Regions from separate parts of the Homo sapiens genome. Here region 1 is linked to region 2. The links come from fine-mapping of genetic effects on gene expression. Tissue or cell type: monocytes. Region 2 holds a variant in brackets; the other region holds the start of a gene. All regions are shown on one strand. Distances are between the middles of the regions.

Evidence for each region. PIP is the estimated chance that this variant, and not a neighbour inherited with it, causes the effect.
Region 1: it holds the start of ANKS3, and the variant in region 2 is fine-mapped to the expression of ANKS3 in monocytes (TOPMed, PIP 0.97).

Annotation. Positions count from the first base shown.
Region 1 is chr16:4,732,927-4,735,607 of GRCh38, reverse strand. It overlaps ANKS3 (ankyrin repeat and sterile alpha motif domain containing 3), which reads left to right and starts at 1,337. Exons shown (of 18, transcript NM_133450.4): 1 at 1,337-1,670. It overlaps DNAAF8 (dynein axonemal assembly factor 8), which reads right to left and starts at 1,071. Exons shown (of 10, transcript NM_139170.3): 1 at 910-1,071. RefSeq lists silencers at 1,212-1,441, 1,492-1,551.
Region 2 is chr16:5,379,620-5,382,300 of GRCh38, reverse strand. It overlaps a transcript of RBFOX1 not described here. Among named protein-coding and RNA genes, the nearest start is that of LINC02164, 160 kb to the right of the region's middle. The variant C/T (reference allele first, on the strand shown) is at 1,082.

The DNA.
Region 1 (2,681 bases), 650 kb after region 2:
TATATCTTAGAGTCTTAAAGGAGATGGTCCTGTTATTCAGGGGGCTGGGGAGCTTGAGCTTGAGAGCTGGGGGGTGAGGGTCCTCTAGAGCCAGTGTCAGGAGAACTCTGCAGCTCGAGAGGCCGCTGTGGCTTTGGCCCTGCAGTCAGTGCCCGTTCATCCCCAATCAGGGCAGCGGCAGGAGATGTGAATTGGGGGCTGCTTGCTTCCTCTGTACTTCTGGGAATAGGGCAGGTGCTTGGTGCACTCTGAACTGGGAGCAGCGGGTTGGGGACGCATCTGGTGCACACAGCCAGCGGGTGTTTTTTGTAACTAGAGCTCTGTTCCGCAATTCAGGGCACAGTATTTCTTAGGGCAACAGAATCGTCGGGATGAAGAGGGCCTCCAGAGACTCTGATAAACCCTTCAGGCGGACAAGACAATAGGGGAGGGAACGGCATTACCGGCAGAAGGAAGAGCATGTACAGTAGCTCAAAGGAATGAACCGCCCAACAGGTTTAAGGGAAGAAAGTGTCAGTTGCTGGACTCTCCGGTGAAAACGGACCAGACAATGCAGGGCCCTGAACGCCAAGTTGAGGAGCTCAGAGCATCCAGAAGGCGAAGGGGAGGCTCGGAGCCGCCTCTGAATAACGGCCTTCCGGCTCCGTCTCGGGGTGGGTTTCTCAGCTGCAGCCTGTTAGCCCCGCCACAGCCCCGCCCCGGTTCTCAGAGCCCCGCCCCCAGCCGGCCTGCCACGAGGCTGCCGGTTGTTATGGCAACCAGACGCCAACAGCCTCCCGGGTCGAGCTTTTAAATTTTAAAGCTGTGGAAGTGGAAAGCCCATCGCTCCTCCTCTCACCCACCCCCAGCCCGTATTTCCCCGCGTTTTGTTCAACTCCCTGCAGGCGCAGCAGGCCCGAGGCCCCTCACCTCAGGCCTCTGCCTCCACTCCCCGCGCTGTCCTGACAGCGCTATAAACAGCCTCCAGCGCGTCACTCCGCTCGCGTCCGCCCCTCGGGCCGCGCCGCAGGTACAGAGGCTGTCCCCTTCTTCAGCACTCTCCCTCTCAGCGGAGCTTTACATTACTAGACTGCCTCCGCCTTCCCCCCACCCCGCCCAGCTCCTCTTTCGGGCCTTTGCGCGTCCTGCCTCTCCTGCAATGGGATTGGTTCCCCTGGAGGGCGGGGACGGAGCAGGACAAACACCACTAGCTCATTGGCTACCGCGGGCATCAGACAGCGAGCCGGGAAGCTGACCGGAAGGTCCGGGTGCGGGACGTGTGCATTCCACGGCGCCCGGGAGCTGTCCCGGTGCCGACCCGCGAGCTTCCCGGCGTGCTCCGCGCCCTCCCGCAACTACTTCCGGGGCGGGTGCCGGGGGCGGTGCCCCGGCGAGGGAGCGTGGCGGCGAGCTGTTTGGGGGGGGTTGGCGACGGCAGCCCGAGGGCGGCGCAAGGCCTGAGGCCCAGCACAGGTGGGTTCCGCGGCGGCCCGGCCCCAGCACTTGCCGGCACCTGCAGCCCGCCTAGACCCGGCGCTCGGGCGTCCCGCGCTGCACTTGCTCGCCGCGTGACTGGAGGACCGAGCCCCCACATTTTCTTTATGTGGTTGTGGTGGGGGCACAGTAATGCCCTGTGCGCCGTAGCGTTCCTGTGGGGATGTGGCCGGGGGGCGTCGGGAAGCGTCACTGCTGTGAGTTACGGGTTTGTCGGCCAGGGACCCGCCCCGGGGCCAGTGAGCTACCTTTGCGATGCGGTTCCACGGGGCGAGAGGGGGTGCCTGGGTGCTTTCACAGACCTCCTCTGTGGGCGTGACAGTTACCACCAGCATCACATTTGTTAAGATTTTTAAAAATTTTTTAATTTTTGTGGGTACGTAGTAGGTGTATATATTTATGGCGTATATGAGAGATTTTGATACAGGCATGCAGTTCGTAATAATCACATGTAAAATGGGGGTCTCCATCCCTTCAAGCATTTATCCTTTGTGTTACAAACAATATGATTATACTCTTTGAATTATTTTTAAATGTGCAGCCGGGCGCGGTGGCTCACTCACGCCTGTAATCCTAGCACTTTGGGAGGCAAAGGCGGGCGGATCACCTGAAGTCAAGGATTTGAGACCAGCCTGGCCAACATGGGGACACTTCGTCTCTACTAAACATACGAAAACTAGGCTGGCATGGTGGCTCATACCTGTAATCTCAGCTACTCGGGAAGCTGAGGCAGGAGAATCGCTTGAACCCAGGAGGCGGAGGTTGCATTGAGCCGAGATCACGCCGCTGCACTCTAGCCTGGGTAACAGAGTGAGATTATGTCTCAAAAAAAATAATAATAAATAAATAAAATGTGCAATTAGATTATATTGACTATAGTCACCCTGTTGTGCGGTCAAATACTAGATCTTTTTTTTTTTTTTTTTTTTTTTGAGACGGAGTCTCGCTTTGTCGCCCAGGCTGGAGTGCAGTGGCTTGATCAAATACTAGATCTTATTCATTCTGTTTTTTTTGTATCCATTAAGCATCCCCACCCTCCACTACCCTTCCCAGCCTTGGTTACACTAGAAGTAACCATCCTTCTACTTTCTATGTCCATGAGTTCAGTTGTTTTGATTTTTAGATAACCACAAATAATTGAGAACATGCAATATTTATCTTTCTGTGCCTGGCTTATTTCACTAAACATAACGATCTCCGCTTCCATC
Region 2 (2,681 bases):
TGAATAACAGCTGAATTGGAACTATTTGAGCATTTTTTAAAAACATAAAAGATGTGGTACCCTTGATCACAGCATTAGAGACAATGTTGTCAATTACTGATGAAGCCTCAGTTAACTCTTAGATGGCCTGAATGACATATTAAGTTTCTGTGAAGCCTGGAAAAACAGACTGCCCCATTGGAGGGACACCACCTTATAAAGTTCTGCAGGGCTTCCCAACCAGGGGGGTGATTTTGTTCTCCCAGGGGCATCTGGCAATGTCTGGAGACATTTTCGGTTGTCCCAGTTTGGGGAGATGAAGATGCTACTGACGTCCACTGAGTAGAGGACAGGAATGCCACAAAAGCTCCCACAAGCACATGACAGACACCACAGCAAAGAATGATCAGCCCCAAATGTCAATAGCGCCAAGACTGAGAATCCCACGCTGGAGTTAGCCAGCCTGTTTTTTGGTTGCAAGACCTTGAGGGAGCTTTTAGCCTCTCTGAGCCTTGGTTCTACCATCTGTCAAATAAGGGGGCATCCCAGGACCTAACTTCCAGAGTTGTTGAGAGATTATGAAGCGACATTAATCACCATCATCACTTCCATTCAACAGGCTCTTGCTATGCCTTGGGCACCATGCCAAGAGTCTGCCTGTGCATTATTTGATTTAATGTTTGTAACAACCCTATGGGGGAGTTAGCACAGCTAAGGTCCCACATGGAAGGGATGCAGGCTCGAGCCCCAGCAGCCTATGCCTTGACCTCTTCATCCTCACTACCCAGTGTGGTCTATGGGCCTGCAGCCTCAGCTTCACCAGGGAGCTTGCTAGAAATGCAGAATCTTGAGCCCTGCCCCAGACCTACTGAGTGCAAATCTGCACGTGAGCCAGATCTCCAAGTGATTTATGTGCCTGTTAGGGTTTTAGACACAATTTGCTAAGGACAGCAGCTGGCCCTAAGTAAATACTAAATAAATATTAATTATTTGTATTGTCGTCACTGTAGCTTACGGAGAGATTTGCTAGGATAAAATTCAGACTCGGCATAATATGCATGGATGTGATGATGACTCACCCAAGGGCATAGGGTCTGCCCTG[C/T]CTTTTACTGAGTCTCTCTCTATACAGATAAAGACCAGGCTGTCAAATACAAAGAGCCAGGACCCCATACTAGCTCTTCTGATTCCTCAGTCCCTCTTCCTCCTTCAGCATCCTGTCCTCTCCAGTGGCGTATCTATTTCACACTATGGTGTAAATGACTCATGGTCTACGAGGCCTCTCCAAGGGAGTTCCAAAGCTCAAGCCATGCTTTCCGCCACTGATTGATAAAAAAAATCCAGATCTTTATTGCCAAACCTCAAGTGATGGGCAGTGCCATTTTAGTGCATAAAAAGGTGACATCACAAAGCATTCTTTATCTCTTTAAAATTTCCTACCTTATTATACAAGTCATGCATGAGTACATCCTCAGGATAAAATATTCAAGTTATATATAAGTGCATAGGGCACAAAGCAAAAGTCCCTTTCATCACAGAGGCGCTGAAGGTTTCAAAGCAGAGACTCCTGAGTTTGGATCTCACCTCCATCCCTTACTAGACGTGTGTCTTTGGACAACTTACTTGCCCTCTCTGTGACTCAGTTTCCTCATCTGTACCTCAAATATCTGTTTAAGGATGAAATGTAATAATGCCTAAAAAATGCTTAGCTCTGAGCCTGCACACAGTGGGAATTAGCAATGCTTTCACACCCTAGTCTTGTCCCCAAAGGTAAGTCCTATTCGCAGCTTGGCATGAAGACTTGGAGACCCTCTGCTATGCATTTACTTATACAGGTACCCAACAAGTACAAGTGCACATTTAGTATAAAGACGATCACAGCAGACCTTAGTTTTCCAACTTGCTTGCTTTAGAGTTCAGCTGAGTTGTGGGGATATTTTAATGCCCATCACACAGATGTATCTCTTGTTCTAACCGCTCTGTACGTCTATCCTTGGGACAGAGGCACAATGATAGATTGAATAATTCCCCTATTGTGGACATTTAAGTTTCCACCATCTACCTACTGAAAGTCGACCGTACATGCAAAGGCAGCCAAACTCCAGCATGTCAGATGGAGGAAGCTGAGCAGCCAGGAAGTGGAGCCAGGCGGAGGATGCTGTCATCAGAGCCTCTGCCAAGGACGGGAAGGATGACGACAATCTGGGGCACACTCAAAATAAATAATTGTCCTTAACCCTCTCAAAATTGGGAAGCACATCCTTAGTCACCGGCTTCCTGTCACAGCTGGGTGCTGTGCCCTCACACCGCCCACTGCAAGGCTGTGCCCAGGCTCCCAGGTTCACAGCCAACAAGGGCACCTGCCCGGGATGATTCCTCCAACGCCCCAAGCGCTTCTCTCCAGCAAGGGGGCCAAGTGCAAGGAGTTACCCTGGCCAAAAAGGACCTAAAAAATGACCCAGAAGAGATGTTTAATGACTTGGGTACTATCAAAACCCTGAAATGTTACCCAGACCACTAATCTATAAAGCAGATCAAAGGGAGAGCCCTGGTGGAACCAAGCTGGTTGTTCAGAGGGGGAGATAAAGAGCCTCATCTTTTCCCCTGAGACCCCCAGGGTCCTCCAGAATACAGTTGATAAACCACTGATCTATCTGGTCCAGTTGGTTTCTCAGATTTGGTGGCTGGAGCTCATGGAGAGGAAG